Linked DNA regions of Homo sapiens. The protein of the gene in region 1 purifies or fractionates together with the protein of each later gene. This does not show direct contact. Each region holds a gene or a part of one and is shown in the gene's direction. Other genes may lie near its edges.

Region 1 (7,028 bases):
AATGGTGAAACTCCTTCTCTACTAAAAATACAAAAAGTAGCCGGGTGTGATGACGCACACCTATAATCCCAGCTACTCGGGAGGCTGGAGAATCGCTTGAACCCAGGAGGCACAGGTTGCAGTGAGACTCCCATCTCAAAAAAAAAAAAAAAGAAAAGAAAAGAAAAAAAGACCTTTCCAGCAAGTTGATCATGACCTTGTGCCTCTGAGAGAAGGTCTATGCCTCTGAGACAAGGTGTGTGGTCTCAGTGAACCCAAATCCCTCCTAGAAGACTCACTTAGCAAAGAAAAGAGCTGCTTCTCACCAGTTGTCTGAGACAGTCACTAGATCCTAAACACAAGGAGGGTTGGGTGTGTATATGTTCAGGGGTGGGATGTGTGCTATTAAGGAGAATCACTGGGTTTCTGTCTTGCATAACTGTTCTGTCCATGGTGCCATCAATAACTGAGATAAGGAATATAGAAACAAACTTATCAGTGATGATAATAAACTTAGCTGGGAATATGACACATAAACTAAACATTTCTGTAGGTAGTTAAAAATAGGTTTTGGAGTTCAGGAAATAGTTGGGGCCAGAGGAACAGTTTGAGTTGTGGTGTAGAAGGTGTCTGTTGAAAGCTTGGGGATGAATGAGGTTCTGTGACAGTTTTCTGCCATTTGCACATAACTTCTGTGGGGTTTCAATTTTGTTACATTTGGGGAAGATAAAAACAATTTATTCTTTTTTCAGCAAAACCAAATTCTTGTCATTTTGTTAGGAATATTAAGTATTACCTGATGGAAAAGTTGAAAGCATCTGTGTTTCATTATAATAAGTAACTAATACTTTTCTGGATACATTTAAAAATAGATGGCTTTGTATGCTAATTTCATGGCCTTTTAGCAAAGTCGATCAACTTTTTCGACTACAAACTCATGTAAGGGCTTGGCTCTTTTGTTAGGTAACTATATATTAGCACATAGAAATGCTAATATTATGTCAAGGAAATAAACAGTTTATGCGTAAAGAATGCACCCTTTATAGTTAAATATATGAAAAGTTTAAAATACTGAGATTGCTAATAGAATGATATAATCTAGACACGACGGGCACAGAATATTCTGACCATAATTTATTTTATAAAACAGGATCTGTTATAAGCTCAGGGTCACAATTATAAATGATACAGATACATGTAGCTGTAGTCCGCCTTGCATTAATTTTTTATTTCTGCATAGCAGATTGCTACAAACTTAGCAGCTTAAAACAGTACTCACTGATTAGCTCACAGTTTCATGAGGCCAGAAGTCTGGATACAGTGTAGCTAGGTCCTAGTGTAGCTAGGTAGCAGAGCTAGGGTCTCACCAGGCCGAAATGAAGGTGTCGGAGGGGGCTGATCTCACCGGAGGCTTGGGTCCTTTTCCAAGCTCATTGATTGTTGGCAGAATTGATTTCCTTGCAGCTGTGTGGAAGAGATTCCTGTTTTCTTGTTGCCTGTTCGCCAGGAACTGCTCTCAGCTTTGAGTTTGCCTTCAGTTCCTGGCCGTGTGCCCCCATTGGTGGTTCACAGCATGGCAGTTTGCTGCTAATTCGAGACATCAGGAGTACTCTGGCCTCTAACTTAAGGAAGGGCCCACCTGATTAAGTCAGGCCCACACAGACAGTGATTCACTCGAAGTCAGCTGATTTGTGTCCTAATCACAGGATGGCCCATCATATTCCGAGGGTCACACCTACACTTAAAGGGGGATTATAGAGGAAATGTTTACAAGGGGCAAGAATCGGGAGCACTCTTAGAATTCTGCTACCAAACCCAGCTTATAAATTGACTTTGTTCCAAAAATTTATCAAGTTGACCTGTGGAAATTCAGAATGCATTTCTCCTATGAGTGTCATTTTATAAGGCACTAAGTTGCCAGCGTGCATCCCATAAAGATTCAGTTTAACTCATGATGTAAGTAGCCATAATAGCATAAGCCAAGCCACTGTGTGTGTGGTGTGTGTGTGTGTCTGTGTATACATGCCACTATTTTTAAAAAGATAACATACAGGCTGGGTGCGGTGGCTCACGTCTATAATCCCAGCACTTTGGGGGGCTGAGGCAGGTGGATCCCCTGAGGTCAGGAGTTCGAGACCAGCCTGGCCAACATAGCGAAACCCCATCTCTATTAAAAATACAGAAATTAGCTGGGCGTGGTGGTGGGCGCCTGTAATCCCAGCTACTCGGGAGGCTGAGGCAAGAGAATCACTTGAACCCGGGAGGCAGAGGTTGCGGTGAGCCGAGATGTCGCCACTGCACTCCAGCCTGGGCAACAGAGTGAGACTCCGTCTCAAAAAAAAATAAAAAGACAGAAAAATAGAGCATATAGCATAACAAGCATAACATTTTTGTATTTTTACTTTGGTTTACAATACCACTTACCTCCCTTTGAATCCCGATAGTACAGACTCTTGCCCCTTTTGGCTGTTGGTTGTGTGTATTCCCAATGCCCAGACCCTGGTAGTTTCTCCCATAACCGTGGACTGTTATTGGGATGAGAGCAGTGGCTAAAGACTGTACATTTCACTCAGTCTCAAGTTGTACTACTGAGGGAGTCCTGGCATTTGGAGTATACTACAGCTTTGCAGGGAGGGGAGGTTCAATTAGGGTTTGATGGAATTAGGGCTGGGGGAATGAGAAAGGGGTAAGGGCCTGGAGGGTTTGGGGGAAATGTTTTGGTGACCCCTTTCCTTGCTTTCGTCTTCATTCTGCCATTGGGCAAAATGGAAGAAAAGGAGAATGTATGAGGGTCAATGGAAAAGATGAATGTTGAAGACTGAAGATGCAGGAAGGCTTTTGTTTAGGTCTCTAACTTGCCTCCCCTCTGCTGCCCTTTTAGGCACCTCAGAGCTTGCTAGGGCCACTGGGGCAGCAGCGGAGTATGTGATGGAGGGACACAGTCGGGGGAAGGCACCGAGTGCCTTGGGTGTCTGGATGTTCTTTCAGTCGGGAGGAAAGAAATCTTGGGTGATTTAATCGAAGATCGTCTCAAGTACGTATCACGAAGAAGTCGTGACACTCGCTATTGGACAGTCCTTACTAAGCTTAAAACTCCCCGTTTGACCTAACCCATCCTTGAGTTCTTTTGCTTTTTCTGTCAGCGTGCAGCCTGAAAGTGGGGAGTCAGACATTTGAAAGGTAAGCCAGATGAGCAGAGCATGTGGAAACCTGGGTCCTGGGGCAGCTGCTAATAATACCTGTCCTCCTGGTGTCTCTACAATCTATGATGTCAAGTACATTTCACAGGGGACCTCTGCTATAGATCATTTAGACCTGCTTTTTTTACATTTCTGTGTTTTGTTTTAGGTTTGATGAGGCGGCACTCTCTATTCAGAAAGAAAAAAATATTTATAAGGAAATTGAGAATTATCCAACTTGTTATAAGGTATTCTTTGAAAGTGTTTGTTTTTGGTATTACATTAGATGATTTTTTATACTGGTATGAATAAGTACTTAAGAAAGGATTCTATGGGTATTTCTATGTTTTTGTAAAATAATACTTCATGGGCCTCTATTTTTGACCAAGATAGAGTAAGCCCACTACAGCTTGTTTCTCTGCTGATTACAGCTAAACTACTGGATAAAATACAAAAGCAACCACCCTTGAACTCTGAAAAGTAAATAAAAAGAGACTAAGGAGAGGAGCAAACACGTGGAGAAACAACCACCATGGGAATGAGTTTCTCGGGTTTTTTTCCATTTCCTCTTGCAGCATTCATTGCCCTGCCCTGAGAGAAGCCCACAGTTGTGGAGCTGGGCAGCAAAGGCTGCAACAATGAAAACTCCAAAAGAAACCCCGCCTTTCTAACCAGCAATGGGAGAAGAGGTCCCATTGTTTTCCTCTCCTTTGGCTTTGCTCCAAGCTTGTCCCAGGCATGGAGCTACACTGTGATGATGGCTCAGGTTGATAAAACTCCACAAGGACCCCAGTCTCTTTTGCCAGAGGAACTAGGAAAATGAGCTAGAGAGCAAGGAGAAAATTCCGGAAAGGAGAGAGCTGGAAACGGAGTCCCCTGAGTGTGGATGTGGCCCACACAAGTCTTGGGTTTACTCTTCAGCTGTGCTGAGACAGGCCTCAAAGTAGCAGTGCAGCGCAAAGCTTGGAGAGCTAAGATTTCATCACTGTCGAAGTGTTGCACTGCCCTCTGAAGGGCTTATGCATGGAACAGGCCCAAAGCCACATAGCAAAGGATTTGAATTAAGTGTAGAACTTCCATCCACCAAAAACAAGGCACCACATGTAGTCTGAACCTAACTGGGGTGATTACCTGCTGAAAACATCTGTACTCTCCTGAAAATTAAGCAGAGGCTGTGCAGCATCACATTCACAGTACAATCCAGAATTACTCAACATGCAAGAACCTGGAAATATGACCAGTTTTCAGGAGAAAAGACAACTGATGGCAACCCGGCAGTGACCAGGGTTGTTGGCATTATCACATAAAGACTGAAGCAACTATAAGTTGCTCCATGAGGTAAAGATAAACACAATTAAAATGAATAGAAAAGAGGACCTGTTGTTTTTTATAGGAAAAATTATTTTTATAGAAACTATAAAAATGAACTAATTGGGAATTTTAGGACTGGCAAATACATTATTGAAGTAAAATAATTGGATAAGCTTAATCTCAGAGATGACAGAAGGAAGACTTTGTGAACTTAAAGATAGATCAGTAAAAGTTACCTAAACAATAGAGACACCAAAAGATGGAAAAATACTTCATGAAGACCTATTTTTCCAGTAATTTATCAGTCATATCCTTGATCTTATTACTACTTTTATTGTTGACTTATCAATACTATCATTGTTTCTGTTATCTGAAGTTTTCACTCATACATCTTTTTCCTAGTTTCTTTTTAAGGATTCTAAGTATCATTGTGGTGTTACGGGTCCCCCCCACTTCTTTTTTATTCACTTTTCAAGATTGAATCTGTGTAGATATTTGAAAGAGATCTCTTTAAAACGTGGTTGTGATCTAAGGCTTGTGTCAAAGTGCGGTCCCCAGACCAGCAGCAGGAGTGCCCCCTGGAATTTGTTAGAAATGGGTGAATCCCAGGCTTGCCCCTAGCAGCCAAATTCCAGGACATGAGAATTGGAAAAGTACTGTTCTAGGATATTTCCCCTCAGGTGTCCCGTGGAAGTTACTATAGCATTTATAAATCTCTGTTTATACAAACAAAGACTCTGAAAGTTAAACTCCAGGTGTTTTCAATACTGCCAGGTTATTGACTTTATTAAACAGATGTAAATTTGACCATGATCCTCTCTTTTGTTTTAGAAAACAATTGCTCAAGTCTTAGTTCATCTACACAGAAATGACTATGTAGCTGCAGAAAGATGTGTCCGGGAGAGCTATAGGTAAGACGTTGTCTGGGCCCTCTTGACTTGCAGTGGCGACACCTCTGTGTCTACAACTAAGATTGCTGCTAGGACACATGTTCCTGGCCATGAAACTGTCATTTCTAAATCTTAGGAGTGCTCATCTACCATTTCATCTTTTACAGTGGGTGTTTTACACCTTTTTTTTTTTTCCCTTTCCTGTATTTTTCTCTAGGGGACCTCCATGGAAGTGAATGACTTTAGTCATTTTAGTCATTTTATTTGCCTTCTAAGAAAAAAAGAACAAGAAAAAGGGGGAAAAAATTATCAGATTTATGTTACAGAAATCAAAATGAGGAATTTTCTCGGTGTTTAACATGAGCAGTCTTAATCTCAACACTGTTAACATTTGGGCTGGATAATTCTTTGTGGTCGGGCCTGTCCTGTGCACTGTAGGCTGGTTAGCGGGATCCCCGGTCTCTGCCCTCTAGATGCCACTAGCATTCCCACACTTTTAAGTACCAAAATGTCTCCAGACAGTGTCACATGCCAGGGGCAGAATCATCCCTGCCTGAGATGTGTTCTTTTAAGGAGAAGGTGAAGACGTGTGATTTGTGCTTACTGCAGCATCCCTGGGTTCAATGGCAGTGAAGACTGTGCTGCCCTGGAACAGCTTCTTGAAGGTTATGACCAGCAAGACCAAGATCAGGTGTCAGATGTCTGCAACTCACCGCTTTTCAAGTACATGGACAATGATGTAAGTGGACCCATTTGCATAGCTTTCATCTTTTCTCTTGAAAGAAAGAGGTTTCTAGTGAGATTATTTTTTACCCATGTACTTAAGAGATTTTTTCCTACCTCTTTTTTTCTTCTCAAGCTACTACTCATAAGGAAACTGACCACTTGCATTGAATTTCACCATAGATTTAGATAAAATAGATGTTAGTTGTGTGGTGTATAGCCATTTACTCACCCATCTAACTCTGTTGACCATATACATATTTTAAAATTGAGGCTCATTTCTCCACTTTTCCTCTATCTGTTGTCCTCTGTAGGTTGCTTTTATTCATTTCTTTTAGACGGACTCTCTGAAAGAGGTCCATTCTGTAGTGGCCTTTGTAATTCAGTAGACCTATGAAAATCTGTGAGGACTAGCTGTGTGTTGCAGGTCATTAATTATCTCTAAGCCTCAGTTAATTCATTTGTAAAAATGAAGCCACTAGTACCTGTCTTGCTGGACTGTTGTGAAGAATACATTAGTCAGTGTGTGAGAAATATCCTCACATGATGTCTTGCACATAAAGTGAACCATGACTATAAGTTTTTATTTTTTCTCATTTGTCTTTTTCAGTAGATTTGTAAGTACCTGTTTGGCCTTAGGCCTTTAGAGTATCATCATAGTATCAGATCAACTTAAGGCCTTCAGTTGTTTATTATAATGATATATGTAGATAATTTTTTTTCTAAATAACGTCTTACATAGGTTTTGAAAATATATATATTTCTAAAGTTTTAATTAAAAAAAATTTATAATTGAAACTTTTACTAGTTGTGTACCTGTCCCACCATGGTCATGAGGCATCTGGGGAGCAGCATTGTTGGGCTTTGTTTTTCCATCTGAATGGTAGAATTGGTGTTCCTGAGGGTGGGGAGCCAGGCTGTGTCTTTTTAGAGCTGAGTAAAACAT
Region 2 (7,028 bases), on another chromosome or scaffold:
ATATTGCCTATCTAGTTATGGCTTGGAATTTTGTTTTAGGCTATGAGTGAAATGTCAAGTTGCAAATTTTCAAGGAATAGCAGGATCAGGGCTCTCTAAGCACTCCAGCAGGCATGGGCCTTGCCACGTTGTGCCAGGTGCCAGGCTCTGTGCTGCTCCTTGCCTCACCAGCACCCCTGCTCTGGCACCCACACACAGGTGCATCTTCCAGTCCTTGGGCCCTCTCTCAATCTCTATCCTATTATCACAAACATTTGGGATCAGACTGATGAACTTTAAGCTATTTCACAATAAAACGTGGATGATTTGCCCTATACTTAGCTCTACCTAAGTGTACACCATGGAAAACGTAGGAAAAATAGCCCTGTGACCTCAGGAGCACACAAGGCCCTGGTGGTGTCCCAGTTCTCTGTCCTTAGGCCAGTGATGCATTATAGCATTTTTCTGACCCTAAAAAAATTGTCACTATTTCCTCATGTCTTCCATAGAGGTCCTTAGAGTGTGGATCATAATGAGCAGGATCTTTTCAGTCTTGATAGCCCTAAGACCAGGTCAGGGCAGAGCCACCCACAAAAAGCCTTGGATCTGCTTTACACCAGAGACAGTCACCATCCAGCTGGACTGAAGCTCTGGGCCCCTGGAAGCTCTTGTAAGAAAAGCTTCTAATAACTGAGCTTCCCTGATCCTAGCCCCTGAAGTCTGGCCATTTGATGGAGTTCACCCCTCGCAGTCTGAGAAGAGGTCAGTGTCAGTATGGAGGAAGGTCATGGGGCTGTTGGAAGGGTTTTCAGACAGAACCAAGTAACCAGGCAGGCTTTTAATAGTGCCTGAGATTTTTTTTAAATTACCCGATAGGAAAATTTGGCAACTCTACAAGGAAAAAGAGTCTTAGTTGCTAGCGTCTTCTGGCTCTTGCCTGCGGGGCTGGTGTGAGCAGTTACTTTGACCAGTCAGGAAGGCTTGTGGGGATCTGGTCAGAACCAACTGCTGAGATGGAACTCTCACATTCCTGCCTGTCTTCTTCATGTGAGGAAGACATACCCATTTATGGCTGCAAACTTCCTTGAATTCATACTTGGGAAACCCGACCCTTGTGTCTGGGAGCCCTGGTGGAGAACTCTGACTTTAGGGCAGCCCTTGCCTCGGTTGCCAGGGTCAGGCATTCCTTGTGGTCATACCTGCCTGTAAAGTAACCCCCAGTTGTCATCTGGAAAGCCTGAAGGACCCTGGATTCTATTCATGGGTTAAACTTAACAGACATTGATGGTTCTTGTGCCTTTGTGTGTGAAGGGCTATGGCTTACCTTCTTGTCATTCCAGGGAACTCTCCCTTTCCCCCCACCAAAAAAACCCACAACTTCCCCTGGGTCACACTTTTTTTAAAAAAGTACTCTAGATCTTCGGAATCAGGTTGACTGGAACCTATGGGTTGCTGAAGTTCCACAGGTACCAGGAAGAGCTCTTTTACAAGAGATTGAATGCTTTTCAATTATAACACAGTATATAGATGGGTGTTTGTTGATTTAGCAGACGTTTATTTGCACTTTAAGGGGACAAAGCCCATTGTGAGGCCTATTGGGAGAGCTTAAAGACATAGAGGGCCCTTCCTGGAATTCCTTAAATAGTACCACCCAGGCACCAACCTACACCACTACATAAAAGCCTTGCCCAGGGGAAAATAGACAAGAAATGTGAAAACTCTTTATATCACTCTTGATGCATCACTTGTTCAGAGATAGTAATTGTTTGTTTCTCCTGACTCCTCTGGTTGTTCTTCTCACACAGGCACTGCTGGGAGACAGTGGCAGCCAGAACTGGAGCACTGGAACAACAGATAAATATGGGCGTCTGGACCGAGAGCTCCAGAGAGCCAATTCTCATTTCATTGAGGAGCAGCAGGCACAGCAGCAGGTACCCCAAGGACCCCAGACTTAGGACGGGCCAGTGGGAAACAAGACACCCCCTTAGTTCCTTTGCCAGCCATGGGGTCTTGTGGCTTAGTGACAAGGAGGGTAAGCCAGAGCTTGTCCTGTGTTGATTGTGTTTAATAATTGCATATGTAAAGGGTTTCAAAATCTTCACAGTGTGACTGCTTCAAGAGAACCAAGCTCAGCCAGGCGTGGTGGCTCACACCTTTAGTCCTAGCTACTGAGGAGGCTGAGGCTGGAGGATCCTTGAGCCCAGGAGTTCAAGGCTACAGTGAGCTTCGATCATGCCATTGCATTCTAGCCTGGGTGACAGAGCAAGACCCTTTCTCTAAAAAAATAAAGAACCAAGCTCAGTTAGTTCTCTTAGAAAAAACAGACCTTTGTCCATCTCAGCAAAGACACTTTCAGAAAGATCTCTCATTTTTTTCTTCGAAAATTATTGATTGGTTTCTTTTTTTTTTTTTTTTTTGTGAGACGGAGTCTCACTCTGTCACCCAGGCTGGAGTGCAGTGGCACCATCTCGGCTCACGGCAACCTCCGCCTCCCGAGTTCAAGCAGTTCTCCTGCCTCAGCCTCCTGAGTAGCTGGGACTACAGGTGCACGCCACCACGCCCAGCTAATTTTTTTTTTGTATTTTAGTAGAGACGGGGTTTCACCTTGTTTCTCAGGCTGGTCTCGAACTCTTGAGCTCAGGCAATCCACCTGACTCAGCCTCCCAAAGTACTAGGATTACAGGCATGAGCCACCGCGCCCGGCCTATTGGTTGGTTTTGTTATATGTAAAGATGACTGCTTTTGTGTAGGTTAAGGGGTAGAAGGAAAATGAAATTGATTATGTCTGTTGATGCCTTTGATATGTAGCTGTATTAATAAAAGCAAGCTAATGATAATGTGTCTGGGGATTTGAGGAGCATGTACCCATTGAAACTATTGATTCTTAAATATTGTGTTTTATGTATACATGTAGTTTATATGTTCTTTTGTTCTTTACATTAGTATGTCTGCTTAACCAGTTGTCTACTTAAATTGCTATTAAACCCAGGAAATTTTTTTTCTATAGAAAGTGAGAAGAATGCAACACAACTAAAAGTAAATATTTGTCAGTCAGTAGTTGTCCTTGAGGTAACTTATTGCCACAGGGAATCCTTTCGTTTGTCCTTGAAGAGAGAGGAAAGACTGCATAGTTTCCCCACATCCAGAGATTTGCCAGACTCTCTTGTATTTAAGCTGTGGCAGTCTGTTGTGGATTGAGACCTTGATCTTGGCAATGGGCTTCCTCCTCCCAAACATCCCCATGTCTCAATGGTCATCTGCACGTGTGCTTTCAACCATTGTCTGCTCCATTATTGGACGTCAGCCAACCAGAGTAAATCTCTCTTGGTGGTTTCAAGCCCCGCTGACTGTTCACAAGTTGGATCAGCAGGAGATATCAGTAGCTTAACAATCCAGCCTTTTGAGCAGTGTGTTCTCAGAGGCAACGGTCTGGTCCTTTGATTTCTGGGCTTTGCTTCTGAATGTGAATTGTCCCAAGTTGGCAAAGAAACTAGCAGCTGCTAGAGTGCTGGGCTTGGAACCAGGTAAGATGGATTTTAATTGCTTATTTCCCATTTCTCTGGCACCAGTTGATCGTGGAACAGCAGGATGAGCAGTTGGAGCTGGTCTCTGGCAGCATCGGGGTGCTGAAGAACATGTCCCAGCGCATCGGAGGGGAGCTGGAGGAACAGGCAGTGTGAGTATTGAGACACCCCTCTCGCTTCAGTGAAATTGAGGGGCAGAGCCATCCTATGACACCCCTAAAAAGCCTGGCAGCTACGTGGCTGGTAAAATCAAAAGCTATTTTATTCATAGCTGCATTTTTATTCTGTTTTACAGATTAGCCTCCCCAAAAGAAGCAATTCTACTTCGTAAATTTTACTACAGGCTTTAGGTGAAGTTGTTATTATTTTTAAACACCTCCAAAAACAGACACAGATGTCTCTGAGCAGATACTCGAAGTATAGTTATGAATGGGAATATGAAACAGAGAAGCCTCTGTAACCTGTGGGAATTTTTGTTCCAGAGAGGATAGGACATGAGCTGACTTTATCATCCCATGACTCTCCTGCTATATTGAACAGACACGTTTTGCTTTGAATCTTAAATTATTGTAACTTTGTTTTTTTTTTTTAAAAAAAACTTACAAATTTAACGCCAGTTAATAAAAACTCTTTCCTCTCAGAAAAATAAATAAAAACAAAACATAACCTCAGTTTGTTTTTCCTTATGAACAATCCCTTTTGCACCCAGAAGTTCGATGGCAAAAACTGCATTCTTAAATGCTGCCACATCATTTTGTAAATCTTTTGAAAGAGAAAAATGAAAAAACAGTCCACCAGGATATTTCAGAAACTTTCCTGTCTCGATATTACGTTTATCATGACACATTGATTGATTATGAATTCTTAGTGGGCCCGTGTTCTACACCGGGCCTTCTGGAAGCCAAGGGATATAGAAGGGAACAGAGCAGACAAGACAACCCATCTCTGCCAAAGAGTTTGCCGCTTGCAGGGTAGAACGGATATTGGGTAAGTGGCGAGGGGTCATTAGGTGATGGCAGTGAAGTGGGAGGGCCCCTGTGATGGGGCCAGTGCATGCTGCCTGGAGAGCCCTGACTTAGCCCAAGGTCCCTGAGGAAGAGGGGTTTAACTGAAATCTGAAGGATGTGTGGATGCTAGCCAGGTGAGGTGAGAGTTGGTGTGGAGGCAGGTGGTGTGGGGTGTGTAGACCAGGAGGAAGAAAATGCACCTGTGAAGATGGAGAGGTGCACACGTGCATGGAGCAGAGAGGTTCCATGTGTCTGGAGGCAGAGAACAAACCAGGGAAGGCCTTGTCAGCATGGTAAGGAGGTACGACTACTTATTCTCAGCATAATGAGAGACCAGTGGAGGTGAGGTGAGGAGTGATGGTGTGATCAGGTGTGATTTAGATGATGTGCTGCAGTGGAGTCAGGTAGGGAGACCAGGTAGGAAGCTGGAGTAGCCAGAATCTGTTTCATGTCTATCTAAAATGGGTCCTGACCCTAAAGTTCAGTTTGAGGAGGGGAAAGGACTAATGGCCTGAGCTTCTCTGTTGATGAGGCAGCCTGGCTGGGCAGTGGGTAATAGAGTCAGAGGGACTTCCAGTTAAAGATGGTGCATTGACACACCCCTACCTCCACTCCCTCTCCACAGCTCACTAGAACAATAGTAAAGGGGTTTGTTTTTAAGGGCATGAAACCGCTGGGCATGGTGGTTCACACCTGTAGTCCCAAGTACTAGGGAAGGAGGCTGAGGTGGGAGGATTGTTTGAGCCCAGGTGTTTGAGGCTGCAGTGAGCTATGATGGCACCACTGTACTCCAACCTGGGTGACAGAGGAGACCCTGTCTCTAAAAAAATAGAAATAACAGATAAATGGGAAAAAGCATGGGATTTGGACTTAGACCTGTGCCATCCAGTATAATAGCTACTAGCCACATGTGGCTGTTGAGTAAGTGTTATGTGGCCAGTCTGAATTGAGATGTGCTCCAGAGGTAAAATGCTTACTGGATTTTGAAGACTTCATATAGAAAAATATAAAATAGCTTATTAATAATTTTTATATTACATGTTGAAATTACAGTATTTTGGCTATATTAAACTAAATACAACAGAATTAATTTCACCTGTTTCTTTTGAAATTTTTACAAACATGGCTACTAGAAAATGTAAAATGGCATATGTGACTCATATTTTTGTTGGATGGTACTGAGATAGATTTGGGCTAGCAACTTGGTTGGTGAGTGTCCATGGACTGAAGGTCGGATGATGTGCCTGATGATGTGCCTGTTTTGTCTTCAGTATGAAAAGTCATACCTAGCGCAGAAAGGTAGCTCTTGCTTTTTAGAGTTTGGCCCTGCCTGGATAGGCCTGCCAGCTGCAGCGCCAAGATGCTGCCAGGATCTAAAATGAGTTAAATATTTTTTAATTTGAAAATTTAGGTAAGGGACAAAGACTTATTTTAGTTGTCAACATATATGTAACAGTTGATTTAATGAAGAGTTGGTTGCCCTGAATCCTGCAAGGCTGTCAGGTGTCTATTGTGGGCACAGATCAAGACCAGGAGTTTCTAACTGCCATTGATGCTGTCAGAGTTAATACAGCCTTTTTAGTAAGACTGTTAGTACTAATTGGCATATTACATTCTAGCCTCAGAATAATCATTTACTAATCAAAAGTTGAAAAGTCTGGAATATTTAGTGACTTATGAAATAGGCACTGCTGAAATAGTATTTTGGGGTTTTCTTTCCCAGCTGCACATTGGACAGCAAATAGTGTAAGCCTGCTGGAGTCAGTTTTCCTAGTGGGAAATACTGGTTTCTCTGTGAGGACAGATGGGGAAATGCGCGTGTGCATGCACAGACACACTGTCACACACCCCATCAGGGATGTTAGTCCTGAGGCCTTCTGGGTTTATAATAAAGCACGTAGTGCCTTATAGGAGGTTATTTTATTAAAGTACATTCCTTAACTCATATTGACATAAAGTGCTTTTGTTTATTACCTGGTTCTCACAAGAGCCCTGTGAGGGAAGTTGAGCTGATAGGATTGCCCTATTTTACAGGTGAGGAAACAGTCCCAAAGAGTTATAGAGTATGTTGTCGAAGGTAGCAATGTAAACAAGTGGCAAAGCCTGGTTGTCTGCCTCAGATAGCATTGTTTCTACCACATTGCACTGCCACTGAGTTTGTGTTATTGTATAGACAGGTCTATAGTCTTGCAGTTCTGAAATCTAGGAAGCTCTAAAGAAATCTCGTTGTTTTTTTTTTCTTTAAATTTGCCGCAAGCTCATGTTACAGAAAAACCTTACCTGAACTGACTCCAACTGTGATTCCTCATAGTTTTCTCTGCAGAAATATTAAGTATCTGATTACGGGGACTGCCCCAGACCCTCCTGGTGGTGTCCTCCTAGTGGTGTCGACTAATACAAAGGATATGTAATTTAGGCTTTTTTTAATCCTGAGAATTCCAAAATCAAAATCCTATCTTGTCCCAAGGATTTTGGATAACAGAGTGAGGTCCTGAAACCCAGTGTTGCCTATTTTGTT
Region 3 (7,028 bases), on another chromosome or scaffold:
TTAATCCTCAGTCTCATTATGCTCATTTAATTTTTATTATCCGTATGTTGTCATATTTAGGTTATGTTCATTTTTTACCAGTTTTGTTAATCCCTAGTATTTTTTGTTTTTGAGACGGAGTCTCACTCTGTCGCCCAGGCTGGAGTGCAGTGGTGCAGTCTCGGCTCACTGCAACCTCTGCCTCCTGGGTTCAGGTGATTTTCCTGCCTCAGCCTCCAGAGTAGCTGGGATTACAGGCACCTGCCACCACACCCAGCTAATTTTTGTATTTTTAGTAGAGATAGGGTTTCACCATGTTGGCCAGGCTGGTCTCGAACTCCTGACCTAAGTTGATCCATCCTCCTCTGCCTCCCAAAGTGCTGGGATTACAGGCAGGAGCCACCGCACCCGGCCGTGTTTTTTGTTTATAAAAGAAAAAATTTCCAGAGTGCACTTTACTCCCTGATAGGAGACTAAATTACTTAAATATAAATTTTAGAAGGTACGTGTTAAATTAACCTAATGAATTAGTAGCATTCAGAAGTGTTTGTATCTGTTAAAGATTCAAAATATACAAACTAATTTCTTTTAATGGTGATTCTATTTCTAGTAAACTAAGGCAGAAATCATTATGCAGAAGAAACAGCACCCTGTTAACCATGTTCTTTTTATAAACCGTCTCTGTTCTCACTTTATTGTTAGGAAGGCGTAATCTGTTTTCATGTAATATAAGTACATGTGAGTCATGTTGAGTTTCTTCACTCATTTGTCCAATTCCCAGTCAACCTGTAGGTGGAGTTAACCTTTAGTTACATAATATAACGAAACAAACATTAAACCTACTGCTTCTGGGACAGTCTTCTCACCAAAACTCAGGGAAAATGGGAGGGTGTTGCCACTGACTGACTTAATGAAAGTATCTGACAAATGTAAGGTCTTTCAAATAGTGAGATAAGAAATGTATATAAATTATTTGATCGACTACTTACTTTCTATCTATACACACACACTATCAGTATATAATGTGTATTTTCATTTTATAGCTATTAAATATGAGGTTCTAGAATGAGTTTTCAGTTTGCAGAATTCTGAGAATCTAGTTCCAACACCTTTGAGAGGACAACAACCACAATTGCACTTGCCATATTTATTAGTCAAAATGAAGTGAAGTCAATCTGTTGAAAGCTTTGTTTTGTTTTTCTGATTAGTTTGTTTAATAAGACATTCAAATTATGATCTTTAATATAATTTCTTCCCCTAATAGCTTGGTGCTAACAGTGGTTTGCACATCATCATCTTTGATGAAATTGATGCCATCTGCAAGCAGAGAGGGAGCATGGCTGGTAGCACGGGAGTTCATGACACTGTTGTCAACCAGTTGCTGTCCAAAATTGATGGCGTGGAGCAGCTAAACAACATCCTAGTCATTGGTATGTTTACTTTTTAAAAAAGTACTATTCATTCAAAAACGTTAGCCATAAGTTCTGAATTAAGATGTGTGTAGGTTGTGATTAAACTGTTTTGCCAGTGTTTCCAAATTAGAATCCAGTGATATTGAAGAATCTATTGTAATGCCTAGGCTTAATAGGAAAAATAAAAGATGGATTTCAGTCACTTGTAGGTTTAAGCTTATAGCTCACCCACAGGTGAAAAAGATGTAGGTTGAAGCTTATAGCTCACCCAAAAATGAAAAATACACATGAAACAATGGAATGCAGTGGTTTTCAAACTGGGTCTTGCAGGCCTTCGGGGGTCCTCAGAGGTGCTTTCAGGGTCAGTGAGGGCCAGGGAGTGCGTTTCAGATCCTACATCACTATTATAACTTCCTCTTTTAGCTGTTTTATGTACTGAGGTGCTTCTGAAGATGACTTCTGGGGGAAAAAAAAAAAAAACACCCTGCTGTTTTATGAAGTCTGAAAACCACTGGCCTGTAAAAAAGAGAAGGAACTTTGGAGTCAGAGAGATCGTGTCACATTGCCCCTCTGTCACTTTGACAGATTATTTACCCTTTGAATCTTAAATTTTCTTTTTAAATACTGGAAGTTTTCATAACATTTATATTCCATTGGCTTATACAGTAGTGAAATAGTAAAGCAAAGTCTCCTTAGCTTGTTAGGGAAATTACTATTCTTACATATACTAAAAGGACATTTGATTTTATTTTTGAACTCTGATCATTTGTTGTTTTGTTTTAACATCTGTGTTCAGGAATGACCAATAGACCAGATCTGATAGATGAGGCTCTTCTTAGACCTGGAAGACTGGAAGTTAAAATGGAGATAGGTAAGGAGATCTGTCACTGATTGGGTGTGTGGTGGGGGGAGTGGAGGCATTTAGAGTTCATTAACAGGAACAATGTCATATGGTGTAGTATTTTTTAGAAAAGGTTTATATCATGAGAAGTAGATGTTTACATGCTTGAGTACCTATAAGGAAAACATTAGGATCATAATAATCTCCTCTAGGCTGGGCGCAGTGGCTCACACCTGTAATCCCAGCACTTTGGGAGGCTGAGGCAGGTGGATCACTTGAGGCCAGTTGTTCGAGACCAGCCTGGCCAAGATGGTGAAACCCCTTCTCTACTAAAAATACAAAAAACTTAGCCGAGTGTGGTGGTGTGCACCTGTAATTCCAGCTACTCGGAAGGCTGAGATAGGAGAATCGCCTGAATCCAGGAGGCAGAGGTTGCAGTGAGCTGAGATCGTACCACTGCACTCCAGCCTGGGAAACAGAGCGAGACTCTGTCTCAAAATAATAGTAATAATAATAATGATAATCTCCTCTGATGGTGCTTTCGAGACTAGGAAAATGCCTATTTTATTTTTAATTTCATCAGGCTTGCCAGATGAGAAAGGCCGACTACAGATTCTTCACATCCACACAGCAAGAATGAGAGGGCATCAGTTACTCTCTGCTGATGTAGACATTAAAGAACTGGCCGTGGAGACCAAGAATTTCAGTGGTGCTGAATTGGAGGGTCTGGTGCGAGCAGCCCAGTCCACTGCTATGAATAGACACATAAAGGTCAGGAAAATCAGCTAAACAGATTATAAACATTATGCCAGTATTCTTTCTCTTTCCTTTCAAGCATATCAAGGGGTAGGGAAATGCTGACTTTTGGTGGAGAAGAGATGGTAAAAGGAATAAGAATTAATTGTCAACTGCTAAATCTTCAGAGTAGCAGGAAGGAAGATAATGTTTGCATCTGCCCTGTAGTAACCACTGACTCATCTACCTTAGGTCATCACCATCTGACACAGACACGTAAAGTGAAAATTTTGAAGAAGTGTTTTTAAATCTTTGTATTGTATTAAAAGTTGTAATATGGCCAGGCATGGTGGCTCATGCCTGTAATCCCAGCACTTTGGGAGGCTGAGGCGGGCGGATCACAAGGTCAGGAGATCGAGACCATCCTGGCTAACACGGTGAAACCCCGTCTCCACTAAAAATACAAAAAATTAGCCGGGCATGGTGGCGGGCACCTGTAGTCCCGGCTACTCGGGAGGCTGAGGCAAGAGAATGGTGTGAACCCAGGAGGCAGAGCTTGAAGTGAGCTGAGATTGCGCCACTGCACTCCAGCCTGGGTGACAGAGCGAGATTCCGTCTCCAAAAAAAAAAAAAAAGTTGTAATATGTCAGAGGAAGTGGGAGTTTCCACGTACTAGAATTTTGGGGGCTGCTTTATTCAGCAAATATATTGAATAGTTGATGTGTTCAAGCTATTGGGCTGGAGACATAAAGATAATTGTGAACTCTTCCCTCAAGGAGTTCAGAGTCAGGAAAATGGACATATTTTCAAATTAGTACAATAATATTGTAGTTACCATGGTAGAAATACGTACTAGGATACTTTTATTTTGATAAAGTGCTCTTGATCTTCCATCTCTTCTCTCCTTTAGGTTTTAGTTACCACCTGTAGACAGATTTACTGAACATATCTGTCTCCTACTTTCAGATTTGTACTAAATACCCTCACCTAGATGTTTTATCAGGTCTCAGATTTAATATTGCAAAACCAAATTTATTGTCTTTTTTACTACTTTCCTTTCTGCTCGCATTTCCCTGTTTATCCCAATTTCCCAGGCTTAAAACATCAGGATTATCTTTGATTCCTGGCACTCTACTGTGCCCTAGGTCAAGTCACTTGCCAAATTTTTTCAGTTCTGTCTTGGCAGTGCCTTTTAGTTCTCACTGCCACTACCCACCTTCTCTTTGATTAACCTTCCTGTATCATATCATTCAACCATTCAGACACTTTCAGTGATTCCCCATCATTTACAAAACAAAGTACAGGCTTCTTTTGGGTCTTTTGGGTCCTCTAGATCTGACCCTAACTGGCCTTTCCAAATGTGCTCCTGATTATTCTCCACATACTTCAGCCAAACTTAAATAATCACCGGTCATCAGACATTAATTTATTTTTCAACATCTCTGCTTTGGTTTTGTTTTTTTTGCATCACTGAGGATCTTCATCCTCTACGTTTACCTGTCTTTTCAAAACCTGGCTCATATGCTACCACTGTCCTCACACCTTTTCACATTTTCCCTTTCAAGAATGTTATACCCGTTTCCTTCTTGAAATAGTAATGTATCATTTATGGTACTGTCAGTTGACTTTGGTTCACAGTAGATTTATTCGGCATCTACTGCATGCTAGACCCTGTGCTAGGAGTTAATACCCCGACTGCAAAGAAGTAAAGTACCTACCATTAAGCTGCCCTCAGTCTAACCCTCCACGTGCAGTAACAGAAAGTACATGCAAGGCAAGAGAGTGAACTCATGTCAGATATGGTCAACTTGTGGGGTGAGAGAAACCTTCATATGCATGTCTGTTGGTAGAGCAGGGCCTTTTAGGTAGAGGGAACAACATATGCAAAGAAGCAGAGACACAGAATAGCATAGTGCGTTGGAGTAGTTTAGTATTGCTTCAGCATGGAAGTTAGGGGAGGGATGGTAGAGAGATTGTGGGGGATAAGTCAGGAGACTAAAGTAGGGATGGAGCACAAAGAGCCTTTTATACTCTGCTAAGAAGTATGGACTTTTTTTCTGTGAGTAGTGCTAAGCCATTGAGTTTTAAGAATAGCAGTGACATAGTGTTAAAACATAAGATCACTCTGGCAGCTCTGTCGAGTGGAGTAGTTAGAGGAGTGGAGTTGGCGACACAGGACAAGAGGGGGAGCTTTTATAACAGTTCAGGCAAGAAATAAAAGCCTGAACAGTTAGGTTGAGTATGTAGATATTTGGGTATATCCTATCACTGGTTCTAGACCAGGAATCCAGCCAACTACCAGTTTTTATAAATAAAGGGCTTTTTTGGAACAGTACACATTAATTTGTGTACTGTCTATGGCTGCCTGCATGCTACAGTGGCAGAGTTGAGTATTTGCAATAGGGGCTGCATGGCCCACAAAGCCTATTTTAGTGCTTTTATTTTAGGTACTATCTGCCACTTTACAGAAGTTTGCTGGCCCTTGTTCTAGACTTTAAATCCTTATCTTATTCACCTCAGAGTCTCCCATAGTACCCCAGATAGATCTAAATAATGAGCACATGGTAGGTGTCCAGTAAATTATTTTTCTTTTTTTTTTTTTGAAACAGAGTCTTACTCTGTCGCCCAGGCTGGAGTGCAGTGGCACAGTCTTCGCTCACTGCAACCTCTGCCTCCTGGGTTCAAGTGATTCTCCTGCCTCAGCCTCCCAAGTAGCTGGGACTACAGGCATGTGCCACCACGCCCAGCTAATTTTTTGTATCTTTAGTAGAGATGGGTTTTCACCATGTTGGCCAGGCTGGTCTCAAACCCCTGACCTCGTGATCCGCCCGCCTCAGCCTCCCAAAATGTTGGGATTACAGGTGTGAGCCACCATGCCCAGCCAATATTTTTTAAATGAGTAAACTTACGTAACTATTCTGAATCACGCTCTATCCATAAGTCATAATTTCCCTACATAATAGAGGTGGATTTGTTCTAGCTCAAGAATGCCAAAGGTTTGGATGGTGTGGGAATATTGTATTGGGTCTTTATATAATGGATCCATTCAGGGACTATGTTTTTATTCTTCCTTGTTTGTTTGTTTTGAGACGGAGTCTCACTCTGTCGCCCAGGCTGGAGTGCAGTGGTGCAATCTCGGCTCACTGCAAGCTCCACCTTCCAGGTTCAGCCATTCTCCTGCCTCAGCCTCCCAAGTAGCTGGGACTACAGGCACCCACCATCACGCCTGGCTAAGTTTTTGTATTTTTAGTTGAGATGGGATCACCGTGTTAGCCAGGATGGTCTCGATCTCCTGACCTCGTGATCCGCCTGCCTCGGCCTCCCAAAGTTTTGGGATTACAGGCGTGAGCCACCATGCCCGGCCATGCTATACTGTTTTAATAAGAAGAGATGGCAACTTCAAGAAAAATGATGTAAACAGTGTGAAAACTGGTCCCTACCATACTGATCTTTCATCTCAGACCACATGGGTGCATCTTGATGTAATCCACAGTAACTAGTTTACTAGTTGTCATATTTTTCATATGTGTTGGCCATGGAATTTTTCTCTTATTTAGTCATCTGTCATTTTAACTACAATAATCCTATCCCAAAATTTCACTTTAAGCCGTTGTCTCAGTAAGAAACATGCTTTCTTCAAGCATATATTGGGTTTATCTACATATGAGGCAATGAGGGATGGTGGGAAGATCGCAGATATCGTAGTCAGAAGGTGTGGTTATGCATTATATTTCTTCCACCTTTTTGTTTCTGACCTGTCAAGGGGAGACACTACCTATCTAATCAGATTTTTATGAGAATGAAAGCAAATACTTTATATAAAAGTGCCTTGTAAACTCTATAAATGCTAGTTATCTCCATTTTTTTAATTGGCTGATTTGAGAGGATATCAGTACTTTTCAATATATGAATTTCTGATTTTTATTGACTCTTTGTAGTTACACATTTTCTAATTGTAAAGCTAAAATGTTTGTCACCCTTGTACATAATATATTATCCTTCTGATTTGCAAGTAAGCAGTAGTGCAAATAGTTCATGTTTCCATCACTTTTTTCCACATG
Region 4 (7,028 bases), on another chromosome or scaffold:
AGCTGTATTTTGGTGTTAGTTAACCAACCTTTGGCTATCCCCTTCCCGCCATCCTTCTCTGCTTCTAGTAACCACTATAATTTTAACAGCCCATTTAGTTAGTGGCTAGTCTGTTAGTACAGGTCTAGGTAATGAATTATATAATTATTATTCTGAGCAATTAAATAGGAATTCTGAGTGGGCTTTCAAAAGTATTCAACAAGAGTACTTTAGTGCGTAGCAGCTCTGGGCTAGGTAATGGAGACTGATGTGGAAAGCAGACATCTGAATAACTCAGCATCCATTTAGCCTATATGCAGAGATCATAAGCTTTTAATCAATTTGTAGTTACCTATCCTGTCTGTCTATGCTTGTATATATATTTTTTAAAGACAACCATTTGGTTCCTTTCCTTTGTGTGTCTCATTATCAAAAGAGCCAACTGTTGTTGCCTTTTAGATACCACTTATTAGCAGAATAATAGAGAAAAGGAGTAAGCTATTCCTCTGTGTTACCTTGATCAACTCATGTAGTTATCCCAAACATATTCCTTCATCTTAGGAGTGGGAATAGCAAAACTTCATATGGGGCATGCAGAAAAGTGGTAAATTTGGTTTTTCTTTTGTCTTTTTTTATTTTATGTTATGTTATGTTATGTTATGTTATGTTATGTTATGTTATGTTATGTTATGTTATGTTATTTTGAGACGAGTCTCGCTCTGTCGCCGGGCTGGAGTGCAGTGGCGTGATCTTGGCTCACTGCAACCTCCGCCTCCTGGGTTCAAGCGATTGTCCTGCCTCAGCCTCCTGAGTAGCTGGCACTACAGGCGCATGCCACCACACCCAGTTAATTTTTTTAGTAGAGATGAGATTTCACCATGTTGGCCAGGATGGTCTCAATCTCTTGACCTTGTCATCTGCCTGTCTTGGCCTTCCAAAGTTCCGGGATTACAGGCGTGAGCCACCGCGCCCAGCCCAAATTTGGTTTTTCTAACTGAGTTCACCTGCCCTCAATTTTGTTATACAAGGAAGCAGTATGGCTTAGTGTTTAAAAAATGTCGGCTCTGTGGTTATTTTCAAATATTTGCTCCTTTGCTTATAATGATAATGAGGCATAATGATATGCCTCAGTTTCTTCATGTAAAAAAATCACATTAGCAATTATACCCACATGATAGGCTTATAAGAATTAACTGAGAAAATAAATTTAAAAGTCATAAGCACAATGCTTAGGAAATGTAAGTCCTGGATGAGTGTTGGCCATTGTTAACTTTGTTTTATTTTACACATCTTTCTTCTCTATCTTTTGCAAATTGCTTTTCATTCTTCACACATGATTCCTGGCTAGATACAGTGGCTCAAACCTGTAATCCCAGCACTTTGGGAGGCTGAGACTGGAGGATCGCATGAGCCCAGGAGTTCAAGACCAGTCTGGGCAACAAAGTGAGACCCCCATCTCTATAAAAAAATCAAAAAATTAGTGGGATGTGGTGGCAGGTGCCTGTGGACCCAGCTACTCGGGATGCTGAGATGGGAGGATTGCCTGAGCCTGGAAGTCAGGGCTGCAGTGAGTCGTAATCACACCACTGCACTCCAGCCTGGGTGCTCCTGTCTCAAACAACAACAACGCCAAACAAAGAAAAAGTAAAACAAAACTCATAATTCCAGTCAATCTAAGTAGCACCTCTTTGGGTGAATGAAGCCACTTGCCAATTGTCTCACCAGCAGGAACTTTCTCACATTTAGTAGCTTGAGGAAAGGGATGAAGAAAATTGATTGTGTTTGTGACTAAGTGATTGATTTTCCAGAGAGGAAAAAAGGTGGCCTTGAAAGAAAACAGTGAGAAGACTTGGGCTACACTGGTGTGAGTTTTAAGGGTAAGGAAAATGCTGTAGAATACTGTCCTTGACTTGATGGAACTCTTTATGGGAGAGAGAGTAGGCCTCAGGTGTGCTTGCATGGTTTTGAGACAGGTGATGAGTTTCTCTTGGTCTTGTGCTGATGCTGGTCCTGCAGCTGCAAGAACAGATCATAACTTTCCTCTGTGTAGGGTGGAAAAGCATTTGTTCTCTGGATGTGCATTATCTCATTTTGATTCTGGCAGTGGGCCCAAATGCTAAGTGTCTTGCCCAAAGTAGAAATTTCCAGTTGCTACTTCCATGGTGTGCCGCACAGGCAATGGCTGAGTTCTTGTAGCTTCACAGACATGTAGACACGAGAGAAAGCCAAGGGTACGAGCTGGAGACATGGATGTGCGACTCATTCAGGTATAGATTAAAATGGAACCATGTATATGGAGGAGCATCCCCAGAGATTACATGAATAACAAACTGAACATTTTTTCATTCAATGTGTTTGTTTTGGCTTGTAAGCCAGTTTTTCCAGAGATCTACTTGATAGAGGGAAAGGAGAAAGGAAGATGTCATTGAACCAAGAGAAAATTGTCTTTCTCCATACCTTGGAATATTATTTGGCAATAATGAAGGAATATTATTTGGCAATAATGAAGGAATGAAGGACTGATATATGATACAGCACAGATGGACTTTGGAAGCATACTAAGAGAAAGAAGCTAGTCTCGAAGAACACATTGTATGATTCCATTCCTATGAAATGTCCAGAATAGCAAAGCTATAAAGATACAAAGTAGATTAGTAGTCACCTTTGGCCAGTGAGGTTGGGGAGAAATGGAGAGCGATTGCTAATGATTACAAACTTTCCTTTTAGCGTAATAGAAATGTTCTAAAAGTGATGATTGTACAATGTTGTAAATATATTAAAAACCATTGGCTTGTGTACTTCAAGTAGGTGTATTGTATTGCCATATCTCAATAAATTATATCTCAATAAAGCCATTTTATTTATATAAATTTAAGGGGTGCACATGCAGTTTTGTTACATGGTTATATTGCATAGCGTGAAGTCTGGGCTTTTAGTGTAATCATCACCTGAATAATGTACATTGTACGCATTAAGTAATTTCTCATCCCTCACCCTCCCATCCTTTTGAGTCTCCAATGTCTTCTTATTCCACTCTCTGTCCATGTGTACACATTATTTAGGTTCCACTTACAAGTGAGAACATGCAGCATTTGACTTTTTTCTGAGTCATTTCACTTAAGATAATGGCCTCCAGTTCATCTGTGTTGCTGTGAAAGACATAACTTCAGTCTTTTTTAAGGTTGAATAGTATTCCATTGCATTTATATACACTACATTTTCTTTATCCATTCAGGAATGTTAATAGACACTTGATGGGCACTTAGGTTAATTCCAAATCTTTGTTCTTGTGAATATTGCTACAATAGACATATGAGTGCAGATTATCTTTTTGGTATAATGGTTTTTTTTTTCTTTTGGGTAGATACCCAGTAACGAGGTTACTGGATCAAATATTAATTCTATTTTTAGTTCTTTGATGACTTGCCATGCTGTTTTCTGTAGAGGTTGTACTACTTTACAGTCTCACCAACAGTGTGTGTGTTCCTGTTTCTCTGCATTCTTGCCAACATCTGTACTTGTTTGACTTTTTTTCTTTTTTTTCCGTTCAAGATGTGTTTGTGGATGAATTTTTAATAGCCATTCTGACTGTTGTGAGATGATGTCTCATTGTGGTATTAATTTGCATTTATCTGGTGCTTACTGATGTTAAACATTTTTCATGTGCTTCTTGGCCATTTGTATGTCTTCTTTTGAAAAATGTCTATTCATGTGCTTTGCCCCCTTTTTAATGGGGTTATTTGTGGGGTTTTTTGTTGAGTTGTTTGAGTTTCTTGTAAATTCTGGATATTAATCTCGTTGGATGTGTAGTTTGCAGATATTTTTCTCCCATTCTGCAGGTTGTCTGTTCATTCTGTTTATTATTTCTTTTGCTGTGCAAAAGCTTTTTAGTTTAATTAAATCTCATTTTGTCTGTTTTTTGTCTTGTTGCCTGTGCTTTTGAGGTCTTAGTCATAAATTCTTTTCCTAAACCAATGTCCAGAAGAGTTTTCCCTATATTTTCTTTTAGTATTTTAATCGTTTTAGGTATTACTTTTAAGTCTTTAATCCATCTTGAGTCGATTTTTTTTTTTATATGTTGACAGATAAGGGTCCAGTTTCACTCTTCCGCATGGGGCGATCCAATTTTCCCAGCACCATGTATTGAAAAGGGCGTCCTTTCCTCAGTGTATGTTTTTGTCAACTTTGTCAAAAAGATCAATTGACTGTAGATATGTGACTTTACTTCTGACTTCTCTATTCCATTCCATTGTTCTATGTGTCTGTTTTTATATGAATATCATGCTGTTTTAGTTACTATACCCTTTTAGTATAATTTGAGGTCAGGCAATGAGATGCCTCCAGCTTTGTTCTTTTTCTTAAAATTGCTTTGGCTATTCAAAACCTGTGTTTTTTTTTTTTTTTTTTTTTTTTTAAGTGACTTGGAGATGCATTTAAAATTGCATGGTTTCAAGGATGTTCCGGATGGTGTTGGTGTCATTGAATCCCCATGTCTACTCTTGTTCTGTCTGGGCCCAAGTCCAAGGCTACCTGGAAGGAAGTTTATTCCTGTCTCCCCACTGTAGTGGTCCAGCTGTCTGACTTTAGGTTTGAATTTACCCTTTAATGAAATTGCTTTTGGATCCATCTCTAGGATTTGGTGAGACCCAGAGAGCCCAGAATAGATCAGCTGTACCTGAGAGGGAAGTTGGAGAATATCTAAAAGCCACCAGGACTTTCAGCGTGGCCAGGCACATTCAAAGTGCACCAGAGTTCCAGGCATAGAACCAGTACTGTTCTAATGGTCTCAACAGTTCAGCTGTTGTACTTCCTGCCAACACTGTCCCTTAGAGCAAAGACACATACTTCACTGTGGCTTCTTCTCTACCAGAAATCTTCTGTGGCATTAGTTCTATGTGGTAGCAAGCATGGATAGCCTTGGCATCAGAACCCTGGGACTGAATCTCACCTCCACCTGTGGGTGGGTTGGGTTACCATTACTTAATCATAATAAGCCCGCTGTTTGCTCATCATTAAAACAAGAATAATGCCACTTAATTGAAGGAGGTTGTGAAAAAATTAGTCTGTGAAATACTTTTTGTGTCGCAGATGTGCGAGAAATGTTAGGCCATTCCTCTCTTTCCCTTTATGTTGTTTTCCCCTTGTCCCAGCTGTGAATCATCTGATCCAGGGTTGGCCAGGAACCTTCCCTTCCTTTTGTAAATACCATACTGCATGTGGCCTTTCCACGTGCTCTGGGTCTCTCCACCCCAGCCTTCACGTCCTTGCCTTTGTTGTTCTGCATACTGGTCATAACCAAGCATCCAAATCCTATGTTTCTATTTCATAAATTCTTTCCAGACAAGGATGATGGTCATTTTTTCTTTTTGTAGCCCTTCTCATTTTAGCCTAGCACGTGATCTTTTATGGATTTGTGGGGTTTTTTGTTGGTTTGCATTATTAACTTTATCCTTCCTCCTAAATGACAAACTTGATTTGAGCAGATACTGTGTCAGTGTGTTTTGTTTTGTTTGCATCTCCCAGGTGCTTAGTTTAATGCTGGGCATGTACCAGGCTCTTAGTAGAGAGCTAGCTTACAAATTGACCACCAACAATTTTGCAGTATTCCAGTGCATATTCATGGAAAAGATGGGGTGGCGGTAGTTGAAATTCTTTGCTGTGCGCAGTTCTGTATGCAGGGACATTCCTTTTCAACCTTCTTTCCAAACCCTGATTGGAGTGGTGTGGATTGAAGAGGTAGAGAATGTCATCTCACCTGCCTCCTGTGGCAGTATCTCAGTGTCTCTTCTATTCTGAGATGCTGGCTGCTGAAAGGGGAGAGTCATTCGTTCTCCTTCCTCTGTCAGGAAGGTTTGATAAACATTTTATATGACATTTGCTTCGCAGTAGTTGGCTCTGCTATTTCAGATTTAACCTTTTCCATTAAAATTAGAGCCCTATTAATCATACATTCCTGAGCAGGTCCTGTGTGTGTGTTAAATTAGATATTAAGGTTGGTACAAAAGTAATTGCCATTTTTACCATTACTTTTAATGGCAAAAACCACAATTAAAAGTAATGGTAAAAACTGCAATTACTTTTGCACAACCTAATACAGTGAAATTTCTGGGGATAGCCTGAAGTCTGTGTTCCATTTAATAAATATTTAAATGCCTGTTTGTGCTAAGAGTTGTTTTAAATATTGGAGAAAGATAAATAAGCATGTGGGCCCTGCCTTATAATTGTTTGGAGTTTAGTTAAGGAAAAAATATGTAAACAACTAAAATTATATACAGGTAAGGGATTTAATAATTTTTCTTGAAGAGATCAAAGACGTTTTCAAAGGAAATATGCAATTTGAACCTTATTTTAATTGTTTGATGTGTTTAACATGACTCTGTCCTTTGAAGTCCAGTTTTTTTTTTTTTAGTAGACATGAGAGTTTTGCTATTTGATGTGTCACTTTGCCAGATTTCAACTCTATTAGATTAATCAAGTTTGTCCTTGTAACTTCACAGATTGTTAATTTGGAAAATGTAAGCCAGTAACTTAAAAAATATATCTGTGTGACTTTTATATTATTTAGGTGACTGCTTAGAAAACTGCACAGCATCTGATGAAATTAGCGAATAAGAACATCAACCATGTCTTACACTCCAGGAGTTGGTGGTGACCCCGCCCAGTTGGCCCAGAGGATCTCTTCTAACATCCAGAAGATCACACAGTGTTGTGAGTTGAGTTTTAAATGGACTTCACTATTTGTATCCACTCTTAACTGAACTTGGTGGAGGTTCATAAAAGGACAACTCTGCTGATTGAGAGAGGGAGGAGCATTCCTCTAACAACAGGTTTTAAAGGGCTCGAACTCTTTAGAATGAATGCAAGAGAATTATATTTGAGATAACACTTACTGCATTTTTCTATAGGAAGTCAGGGCCAGGCACATAATACATTATTTCATTAAATAAAATAAAGATTTAAAAGGATAATGGATTCTTATATCTGCTTTAAAGCTATCTGGTTCTAGATGAGATGATGAGACCTGATGACTCAGTCTCATAGGTTTGGAA

The links.
Region 2: the proteins of NAPG (region 1) and STX6 purify together in Homo sapiens (affinity purification with mass spectrometry; 3 studies listed by BioGRID and IntAct, with this or other methods). This does not show direct contact.
Region 3: the proteins of NAPG (region 1) and NSF purify together in Homo sapiens (affinity purification with mass spectrometry; 3 studies listed by BioGRID and IntAct, with this or other methods). This does not show direct contact.
Region 4: the proteins of NAPG (region 1) and STX7 purify together in Homo sapiens (affinity purification with mass spectrometry; 5 studies listed by BioGRID and IntAct, with this or other methods). This does not show direct contact.

The regions. Positions count from the first base shown.
Region 1 is NC_000018.10:10,542,999-10,550,026, forward strand, and holds part of NAPG (gamma-soluble NSF attachment protein), read left to right. Parts: intron 1-3,327; coding exon 3,328-3,406; intron 3,407-5,300; coding exon 5,301-5,380; intron 5,381-5,968; coding exon 5,969-6,098; intron 6,099-7,028. UniProt on the Homo sapiens protein: Required for vesicular transport between the endoplasmic reticulum and the Golgi apparatus.
Region 2 is NC_000001.11:180,984,866-180,991,893, reverse strand, and holds part of STX6 (syntaxin-6), read left to right. Parts: intron 1-1,784; coding exon 1,785-1,910; intron 1,911-3,548; coding exon 3,549-3,655; intron 3,656-7,028. UniProt on the Homo sapiens protein: SNARE promoting movement of transport vesicles to target membranes. Targets endosomes to the trans-Golgi network, and may therefore function in retrograde trafficking.
Region 3 is NC_000017.11:46,691,660-46,698,687, forward strand, and holds part of NSF (vesicle-fusing ATPase), read left to right. Parts: intron 1-1,243; coding exon 1,244-1,409; intron 1,410-2,187; coding exon 2,188-2,262; intron 2,263-2,815; coding exon 2,816-3,003; intron 3,004-7,028.
Region 4 is NC_000006.12:132,503,105-132,510,132, reverse strand, and holds part of STX7 (syntaxin-7), read left to right. Parts: intron 1-6,544; 5' UTR 6,545-6,602; coding exon 6,603-6,687; intron 6,688-7,028. UniProt on the Homo sapiens protein: May be involved in protein trafficking from the plasma membrane to the early endosome (EE) as well as in homotypic fusion of endocytic organelles. Mediates the endocytic trafficking from early endosomes to late endosomes and lysosomes.